2 separate regions of the Homo sapiens genome follow, and region 2 is linked to region 1. Evidence: fine-mapped expression QTL. A gene starts in region 1. The other region holds a variant in brackets. All regions are shown on one strand. Distances are from middle to middle. Region 1 holds the start of DIRAS3 (DIRAS family GTPase 3). Region 2 overlaps GNG12-AS1 (GNG12, DIRAS3 and WLS antisense RNA 1).

Region 1 (5,383 bases):
TCTTGCTGGCTGCGTAGTTGAACACATACTCTCCCAGTACTGGGGAAAAGGACCCTTTTTAGAATGTGCAAGTCCCATGAGAGAGTAATATGTCCATATTAGAGTTTTGGTGGTGGTTTTTTTTTTTTTGTTTTTTTTTTTTGAGTCAGGGTCTTGCTCTGTCCCTCAGGTTGGAGTGCAGTCATGCGATCATGACTCACTGCAGCCTCAACCTCCTGGGATCAATCAATCCTCTCACCTCAGCCTCCCGAGTAGCTGGGACTACAGGCATGTGACACCATGCCCAGCTAATTTTCTTATTTTTTGTAGGGACAGGGTTTTGCTATGTTGTCCAGGCTGGTCTTGAACTCCTGTGTTCAAGTGATCCTCCTGCATCAGCCTCCCAAAGTGTTGGGATTACAGGTGTGACACAACATACCCACCCCATATTAGAGTTTTCATTTGAAAAAAAAAAATGTTGTTGCTGGTTGTTATATCTTCAGACTTAACTTGCTTCTAATTCTAGTCTGGCTTCTTTAAGATAGTGTGATTCTAAGAGTGTTCTAAACTTAAGTGGCAAAATTTAAGTAGATGATTTTATATTCTTGATTAAAGGGGGCCAGGGAGGTTAATACAGTAAATATTTGAAATTGATATAAAATAAATACATACATATATCTAAACCATTCATTTTTGCAGCTTTCAGGTAAAATCTAGCACTTTATTCCAGTCTATGAGATGTGGTTAGTTGATATCATCTAATATTAAGTAATGACATCAGCTATCCAAATCCTGGGCACAATTCCTTTAGCAATGATGACCTTTAATAGAATTTAGCTTAAAAAACTAGGAGATTTCTGCTACAGTGATGCAATCTTTCACATCTTATTTATTAACAAAAATCAACAATCCAGCTTTCCTTAGGTCTTCACGCACTAAGAGTTCTCTAGTCACAGAAATCCTAGCCTTGTCTGCACTCTCCACAACTATTATAAACTCCATGTTAGTATCAAGAGTTCCAGTAAAGACCAAATATCTCTTGGCCACCAACATCCCACATTAGGAAATGTGCATTACTAATTATTCTGTTTTACATTACTTCCTGCTCTAGGGGATGTATGTACAAATTCATTCATAGAAAATTGGTAAAGCAGCCGGGCGCATTGGCTCATGCCTGTAATTCCAGCACTTTGGGAAGTCAAGGTGGGAGGATCGCTTAAGCACAGGAGTTCAAGACTAGCCTGGGTAACATAGGGAGACCGCCGTCTCTATCAAAAAGAAAATAAAAGAAAAAAAATTGGTAAAGGACACACGTGATAACTGAAGTTTCCAGATGTGAAGAGAATTCTCATTCTCAGGCAGTGGACCCCCCCCCCCACTCCCCTCCACACTCCTTCCACCTTCCCAGGCCACCTGGCCTCAGGCTGAGGGGGAGGTGAAAGTTTCCAGGAACCAGAGGGCGTCCAAACCCAGCGGCCGTGCGGAGCTCAAGGTCCCGCCGCTGCTGTTGCGGCACCAGCCTGGCTCATGGACATCACCACGCACCTGCAAGGTCAGGTTTCTCTCTGGTGGCTGTGGCGGCTGCTACCCTCCTCGCCCATTTCAATCTTACTTTCACACTACATGACTCCACTATTACTTCCTGAACACTAGCTACCTACGCAGCTGTAATAGTGGACACTGTGTCAACCTTTAAGCTCGCACACTTATCAAACCTCGTTCTTCTATATTAAAAAGTGCTAGCTTCCCAACGGGACTATCCAAAGTGCAGTTGCAGGACCTGCCAGGAGCCCGCAGGGCTGCGGGTGGTTCTTGCGTAATCGCGCCAAGAAAGACCTGGTTCCAGTTTCAGGGACAACTCGCCCATAAACTTCTACTGCGCAACAGCATCTGCTGCTTTGTCTGACACTTGTTGTTTTCAAGTACCCCTAAAAAAGCGAAAGAAAGACTTACCTTTCTCGGAGGCACGAACCAAGCAGCCTAGAAGACAAATGCGCTGCTCGGAGAGACTGCCGCGGCAACCAACTGGACACCCCAAGAGCTCACTCCTCCGCGGTTTTATATTCCGACTTGCGCACAGGAGCGGGGTGCGGGGGCGCAGGGAGTGTGGGTAACAGGCATAGATTCCGCTTGCGCAATACGTGGTAAGAAACCAGCTGTGAGGGGCTGGCCCAACGCAGAGCGGCGCGAGGTCCGCTTGGCATCTACAACAATCGAGGGGCTAGTCCAGAAGTTCAAGGCGGGGTTACAGGTTGGGGAGGAACTGTTAAACTGTGGACTTTTTCTCACCTGTTGGAATAAGCTTCAGGCAAAACTTTGCCAACAAAAACCGGTCCAACTGATTTTAGACGAAAGTCCAAAAGCAGTTTAATGCAGGACAGATAATCTTTTCCACAAATGATACTGAAAAGACAGGACATCTATAGATTCCCCCCCGCCAAAAATAACCCTTACATAAAAATTAAGTGGCTAGATATAACTGTGACGAGTAAAATTACAAAACGGTTTTAAAAAACAACAAACTATTGTCTAAGGCTAGGCAAAAGGTTCTTAAATTGACATTAGTGGCAAGACCGGTAAAAAGAAATGTTGATGAATTAGACTCCATAAATTTAAAACTTTTGCTTTGTGAAAGACCCTGTAACGATACTGAAAAGGTTTACCTAGGAGAAAATATTTACAAGCCATATATCTGGCATACAACCAGTATCTAGAATATGTAAATAACTCAAAAATCAATTATTTTTAAAAATCCAATTAGAAAATAGTCAGAAGACATAAACAGACACTTCACTGAAGATATGCAGATGGCAAATAACCATATGAAAACCTTTAATGTCATTAGCCATTAGAGAAATGGGAATACGAGGCTTTCGTTGTTCTTCGCCTCCCACTAGGGCGGGTTGAGGGTCTGGCTCCAGTAGCCCCGGGTGCCTCTCACTCCTTGGGCGCAATGCTACTATCCTGGCAGAACCCTCGCCGAACCCTCGCAGGACGCCCCATCGGGTCCGCCAGCGGCTAGGAAGCCCGATTGTGTCGTTCCTTTTTCCCTCTGCGCCTCCCACCGCCAGTCCCTTTTCCAAATGCGCCTGCGTCTGCCCTCCACATCTCCGAGCTCCGTCTGGCTTCTTTCTCCCTTGCCTGTGAGCGCCTGGCGGCGGATGCATTGAAAGCTGCGCACCACCGCCTACCGAGCGTTTTGGGGAGTGTGTGGAAGTTGTTGGCAGCAGGTTTTGACAGCAGTACCCTATGGGCCTAGTCGTTGACGGTAGCACCTGGTTTTGTGTGCCCCAGCCAGCTGAGGCCAGGGTGTGTGGTGTGGGCCACTGGTACTGCTCTTCTGCCACTATAATCCCTCCCCCTACCAGGTACCTGGTGCGTAGAAGTCTAAAGACCTGTGAGGTCTAGCCTGGCGCCTGTAATCCTAGAGAATAAGGAGGTTGAGGCCAGGAGTTAGAGACCAGCCTGGGCAACATGGGGAGAACTTGTCTCTACTTTAAAAAAATTTAGCCCAGTGTGGTGGTGGCCGCCTGTAGTCCCAGCTATTTGGGAGGCTGATGTGGGAGGATCACTTGAGCCTCCCACATCAAGGAGATCGAGGCTGCAGTGAGCCGTGATCACAGCCACTGTACTCCAATCTGAGCAACAAAGTGAGAACCTGTCTCAAAACAAATTCCAACCTGATTCTGGTATAGCATCACATGACAGGTAGCAGCCCTAAGGGCGATCAAAGTATTTTACCCCAAAATATATTTCTGACATATTTTGGAATGGTCCTGTGCAAAGCTATCTTTTGCGAGGGAAATTTGTGTTCTGTGGACAATCTCCTTCCCTTTCCAGGTCTTTCTCTGATCCGGGAGAGATTTAACTAAGAGTCTGACACCGTTTAAGGTCATTTACCTTTTGAGGTACATATGCCATCTATTCTTTCTGAAGCATATTACAGGCTTCACATATGTAACAAGAACCCTGGCTTCCACAACCTCCCTCCTGCCACCACTGGCCAAACCCCTCCTCCTCCAAAATGTACCGGCTTTCCAGGTCAAACCAATGTATACCTTACATATATTGACTGATGTTTTTGCCTGTATCTTCTGTCTTCCTAAAATGTATAAAAGAAAACTATAGTCCAAACACCTTGGACACATGTTCTCAGGACCTCCTGATGCTGTGTCACAGGCCGTGGTCACTCATATTTGGCTCAGAATAAACCTCTAAATATTTTACAGAGTTTGGCTTTTTTCACTGGGTTTCCCCACTCATTTTATTGGCATTAGCTCATACTCTTTCTGTCCAATCATATTTCTACATTGCTGTCTATATTTTATTAATCCTAAGTTAAAAATAGACAATTTCCTCTATATGCTTGGGTCATCATTCTGCAGGCTCCCATGTATACATATTAAATACATTTGTATGCTTTTTCTCCAATTAATCTGCCTTTTGCAGGTTGATTTTTCAGTGAGCCTTCACTGAAGTTTCCCTTTGGTCCCTGCACTGGTAATTAACTCAAACTGTTTTACCAAAATTTGATTCATAGCCTTTATCTCATTTTACCAGAAAAATAATTTGGATCCAACTGTTCTCTATAAACCAGCAAGTTTATATGTTTTACTATCTCACAACTAAAATTCTAAAATAAAAGCTAGAAGACCTTTATGTGTATATTTGTTTAAATATATTTACACATATGTACATGTATTATGTTGTATGTTATGTCTACATAATAAAATTCAGTGTGGTAGGCCAAAAATCCCTTAAGAAATGTTAATCTGATTGGTTTAAATAGATGGGCACTCACACAAAAACATAGTAATTAACCTAATTTTTTTAGTTCATGTAACTTAATCTTTAAAAAAGTAATTGGTTTTAAAATTGTTGATAAAATAAAATTAAAAACGTCTTTCTAATTGTCAATATATATTTTTGCCTGTGTTTACTGGTGTGGGGGCTATGGCTCTCAGCCCCCCAAAGATTTGCTGGAAAATCACTGACATGGGCCACATTGATTAGTAAGAGAAAAGACATACAAATGTATTTAATGTGTATACACAGGAGCTTTCAGAATAAAGACCCAACTTCTCAATGAGTTATAGAAGTTTATACACTAGTCTTGAAATTACAGAAAGAATGGGGGGCTTGGATTCTGGTAAAACAGATTATGGGAGGAGAAGAGGAATTTATTGAGGGGCAATGAATGATTGGTGAGAGAATGATTGGATTGAGCAACAGATATTAACTTGTAAATAGTTTTCTTTGGAATTTAAATAATCCTTGGAGGCAGTCATTGTACTTCTATAAAGGTCTGCTTGGGTGTGGTTACATTTTGGTCTTCTTTTCTTTAACAGATGAGATAACAGGAGGAGGAGAACCAACAATTGCTCTCCTTGGTGGGTCTGGTTGT
Region 2 (5,383 bases), 100 kb before region 1:
CCTCACCAGTTGCTTGCTACTGTCTTTGTCCTTCCTCCACTTATAATATGTCTATCTCAATGCCAGCCAGAGTGATCTTGTTAGAATGTAAATTAGACTATGGACTGCCTCTGCTTACAATCCTTCAACCTTTCCACTGCATTCAGAAAAAAATCCAAACTCCTTGTCACGGTCTATGTATCTCTGCTGACCTTTGCAGCTTCTTTCTTGTCCATTCCCTTCTTTGCTTTCTACATTCCTGGCATGTGAGTTGTCTCACATTTTCCCAGATGTTTCTAGTTTCTATTGCCTCAGAGTCCTTACACACTCCAATTCCTCTGCCTGCATCAGTGGACCATCCACTTTTCACATTCAAGGGTCTTTCTTATACTTCAGGGCTCTGCTTAAAATTTACCTCCCAGAAAGACCTTTCTCCATTTCCCCCATGCAATCCAGAGTAGGGCCCCTTCTCCTCCCCCGGCTTTTCTCTATATTTGTGACCAGTTAGTTTCCCTTAGAGCACCTATCCCCATTTGTCATCGTTCTCTGTTGTTTTTTTGTTTGTGCTTTCCAGTGGAATATGACCCTAATGAACTACAGACCCTGCTGAGTGCCTACTGGAATGACTGCAAATACATAGGAGGTGTCCAGTAAAAGAAAAGAAAAGGAAAGGAAAGAAAAGAAAAGCCTCTTAGCTTCCTTTCCTTAACCTAACAGATTTAAACCTTCCCTGCCTTCCTTTGGTTGAGCTTCACCACATACCTTTAGACTTGCTTTAAGGAATACATTCCTGCTAAAGAGATTCATTGAATTTCTACCATGTGTCAAGCATGGTGCTAATAAATGTGATAAATCTGGAAGGAGAAGGCATTCTGGTATAGCAGAGAGAGGAGCTTGGCTTAGGAGTCTGAAAGACCCGGATACTGCCAGCTCCTCTCAACCAGCACACCACTGGTAAAATGTTACTTTTCTTGGCCTCATCCCCTCAAAAACAAAATCCAAATCTTAGATGTCCTGCTTACAGGTCCCCACAGGAACATTCCCATACCCTAACATTTATCATAGTAAGTAATAATCTGCTTACCCTTCTTTATTTTCTACTAAACTCTCGAGGATTATTCATCTTGCTCACTATCTCCCTCACCCCCTTTTACACATGCTGTATTGGAAGGCTTAAAATTTCTGGAGCTGCCTTGAAATCTTTGAGCCTCACAGAGTCCTGGAGGCCTAACTTTGTGTCCCCCTCCTCTTGTCAGATGTGCCCCTTGCCCTGCACCCAGTAGGGAAGATTCTTCTATCAGCCAGCTCAGTTGCATTAACCTGGCCCTCAACCTAAAATAACAGGTTTCACCTCCCTACCAGCCCATGGAATTATTCAAACAACAAAGTACACCCTCCCACAGGAATCAGGGGCCACCTCACCCCCTTGTCACAACACAGCCTGCCTCCCAAAGCCCTGTTTGTTCATTCTGTTGAGTATAACCCCTGTGTGGTCCTGCAGGGTATGCAGTGCCTTCTACCCCAGGCTGTCAGTATATGTGACTAATGAACTGCTGTCAATCGCATGGGTCCAACGTCAGGTGTTGTGTGCTTGGCTATTCTCAGAGTCTTAGGGCAACACTCCCTCTTTCACCAGCGGGGCAAAGAGGAGGCAACAAAACACTCATATCCTCACATGCCTGCACTAACATACACACAACAAGAAGTATGATAGTGATGTAGGCAAAAAATAGTAACCCCCATAGGTTTGCAGATGAAACAGACTCCTGTTACAAAAGGCAGCTTAACAAGAGAAAAACAACTAGAAGCTTATTAACATTCATATGTCACATATATGTGAGAGATACCCAGAGAATGAGTAGTTCTTGAAGAAGTGGCTTTGAATTCCAGCTTAAGTAGCATTTTCAAAAAACAGTACATTTTTAGAGAAGTGACAAGACAAAGGAAAAGGGCTTTGAATCTCTACAGCTGGCAATGTGCGGAAAGGTAAACAAATGGCAGATAAAGGCTGGTTTGTAAAGCTTGTTAATATAAATCCCTCCGGTATCATTTCCAGGTGGTGAAGGTCTAAAGCTGTCTTCAGTGGTTAACCTGTGTTCACCCTGGTGGAGAGGGGACAAGGTATCTTTTGCCTTTGTAAATCTATGTTTTGCTTTTAAGCAAGTGGAGGGAGGGCAGAGAGCTCTATCATCCTGGAGGAAGCATCTGACAGACTCCTGCCTTGGGATGACACACTCTTAGCCACAGCTTTCAAAGCCCTCCTGAGTCCTCGACAGACACTGCAAATTGATCATGGTACTCTTTCCTGCTGCACCTGGACTTTGCCCCAGAATCATTCTCCACTTGCTGAATGTAGTCATAAGAGATAAAGCCTATTTCTCACTCGGCCCCAAACTTCCCGTGATCAGTGTCCTGTGATGAAGGAAACTCTGCGGCTTATAACTACATTTGTAGCGCTCAGCTCTGCATCCCACTCCCAGTACCGGGGCTCAGATCATCCAAGCTTCTTACTGGAGAAGAATCTCACTCTAGGAAATTTTTAATGTTTTCAATGTCATTGGTCATACATCTCAATTTTTCCGTACCTTAATGGCTTCTTTCACAGACTCTCAGCAATGCCATACCATCTTTCTGTTCCTCTGCTGGTTCTAAACTGGGTTAGACTCACATGGAAACAAGCAAATATAATTGTAAATTCATAATTATGTGATGTGGTAGAGAGAACTCAAGGTTTACAGTCAAGGTAGACTTCCCT[G/A]CCTCATCCTTGTTGAGCTGTGTGACTGCAGGCAAATCATTTGTACATCTCTATATCTTGGTTTTCTCATTTGCCAAGTGAGGACAATAATAATATCTGTCCTCCCAATATCATGTATCATTACATATGTAACATTAATATAACATATAATGTTACAAAGTAGCATAAATGAATAACATTTAAAAAGTTAAACCTCCAAGGTGTTTAAAAGCAGCATACGGGTATTTCTTGCCACTGCAAGAAAAAATCTGCCACTTTTCTCCAGGGTGGCTGAATAAATAGGGCAGCTTTTCCAGAGAGGCAGCCATAGTAGACATTCCATTATGCTACTGCATATTCAACTAGAGTATAAAATGTGAGCCCTCAGCCTGGAGGTGTTAATGAGTTGCCACTTAGAAGGACCAGGGAAGCAAATTAAGTGCATATGCATAAAGCAGTCAGAACTGCCAGCCCTCCATGCTGTCTGGAAACTGAGCTGCTCAGGCCCTCATCCTCTGTTCATCTCATCCCCTGATTTAGCAGCTGTAGTTGGTGGACCAGGTTCATGTGAATAAGACCATTGGCTTTTCTGCCTCCACTTCCCAGAACCATCTCACTCCAGACCCTGTCTAAACTAGTGAAGTTGAACACATCCAGTACTTGGGCTCATCATCAGAGAGATGGAGGTGGGTTGGTCACCAAGAGGTAGGATGCCCACTTCATTGTTGCTGAAAAACATGCTTTAAAAGCTTCCTAAGATTAATGATAGTTACTTTTCTCTTTTAAGTTATTTTTTCCTATATGGTTTCTGTTTTCTACAAATTCCCTGTTTCACTGTTGATTAGTTTTGGTCTGCATCATTTAGGTAGAGTCTTTCTTCAAGTATCTGCCAATCTTGGGCTGTCAGCATGTATTTAAGAGAAGGATATTAAAAAGCCAACCAGAGACTTGAAAGAGCATGAGTGGGGCTGGGGGCTTCATGGCAGAAGGGTCACAATCAGCAACATCAGTATCTCTGTGTCTTTTCTCTTTGACTGGTTAGGTTACTCAAAGAAGGCTGTTCTTTGAGTCTCCCATCCCCAGCTCCATATCTAGCCTGGAGACTGCCAGCCTTCTGAGGACCTGGTGGAGAAGGGAATAAGGAGTCCTTAGAATTCAATATGTAGATTTTCATCAAACCTTACTGTTTCCAGTACATTATCCCTGCCCTACACCCAGAATGGGGGCTAGATGGCCACCAATCCAGAGTCCATTTGGTTCACTGTCTCCAGAGAGTCAGTTTCTGTATTCTGTTTCAAGGAAAGGGGCACTTGTCAGCTTTGAGAAGCAATAGAGGTTATCCAGGAGTCTAAGTGCACTGTAAATAGATTTCCAACCGATCTTGTGGTTTTCAGCCCCCACTTCTGTCCCATCTCCTCACACTTTCACAGATCCCTGATGCTGCCAATTATGGAGTCCTGGATCTCTAAGGTCCCTATCAGCTTGCTTTTGGCCTCCCTCACTGCTGGCTGAGGATTCAATGTTCTGAGGTTGCTGAGTCAGTTGCCCTTTATCCTTTTGTCTTCCAGCTTCAAAGATTTTTTTTTTTTTGCTTTTTTTTCCCTCTCATGTTCTCAAAGGTTTATACCTTTAAAAGAAAATCCCTTTCAAAATATTTTTAATGGGACTGAAGGATCAGAAGAAAGACACATGTGTTCAATCTACCATCATTAACCAAAAGAGAGAAAATACCAACACAAAAAAAAGACATAGAGCACATGTGACGTGTGTATCTTGGCAAGATGCTGCTGCCAGGGATTCAGAGCCAAAAGGAGAGCCCAGGTTTCTTATATCACCTGTTTTCCTTAATGCAATCCCACAAAGTAGTACTATTTTCCATATTTATTAAGAAGGAACAAGTAATAATAAGAATTAGTATTATTGACTCTCTAGTATGACCAGCTGTATGTCTTTTAGGGCTTCCCTACAAAATACCACTGACTGAGTGGGCCTTAACAACAGAAATTTATTTTCTCACAGTTTTGGAGGTTCAAAGTCCAAGATCAAGGTGTTGACAAGCTTGGTTTCTCTTGAGGCCTCTCTCTTTGGCTTGCAGACGGCCATCTTCTACTGTGTCTTCATATGATCTTTTCTTGGTGCACAAGTATTTCTGGTGGTTCTCCTTCTGATAAGGACAGCAGTCATACTGGATTGGGGTCTCACCCATGTGATCTAATTTAACCTTAATTACTCCCTTAAAGACCTTAACTCCAAGTACAGTCAAATTCTGAGGTATAGGGGGTTAAAGACTCTAACATATGAATTTTGGGCAACACACAATTCAGTCCAGAACTAATCTGGTCATTTTATTTCCATTTCTTCATTTATTTCTCACAATCAGCCGAGGGTTAAGTATTATTATTATTATTATTGTTATTATTATATATGAGGAAACTTCTGTTTAGAGAACTTAACTAACTCTTAGACTGCACAGCTAGAAAGAGATTATGTATTTTGTTTTCTATTGCTGCTGCAACAAATTATCACAGTCTTAGTGGCTTAAAATTACACAAGTGTATTATCTTACAGTTATGTAGTTCAGAAGTCTGAAATGGGTCTTACTGGGCTAAAGTCAAGGGGCCAGAAGGCCGCATTCCTCTCTGAAGGCCCTCAGGAACAATCTGTCTCCTT

Evidence for each region. PIP is the estimated chance that this variant, and not a neighbour inherited with it, causes the effect. A credible set is the group of variants that fine-mapping cannot tell apart.
Region 2: its variant is the best candidate, but not a certain one, in a credible set for the expression of DIRAS3 in lung (TOPMed, PIP 0.52).

What each region holds. Positions count from the first base shown.
Region 1 is chr1:68,048,616-68,053,998 of GRCh38, forward strand. It overlaps DIRAS3 (DIRAS family GTPase 3), which reads right to left and starts at 2,012. Exons shown (of 2, transcript NM_004675.5): 1 at 1,933-2,012. The region is part of intron 2 of GNG12-AS1 (GNG12, DIRAS3 and WLS antisense RNA 1); the gene reads left to right. It also overlaps the pseudogene ARL5AP3.
Region 2 is chr1:67,948,104-67,953,486 of GRCh38, forward strand. All of the region lies in intron 1 of GNG12-AS1 (GNG12, DIRAS3 and WLS antisense RNA 1), which reads left to right. Among named protein-coding and RNA genes, the nearest start is that of DIRAS3, 100 kb to the right of the region's middle. The variant G/A (reference allele first, on the strand shown) is at 2,735.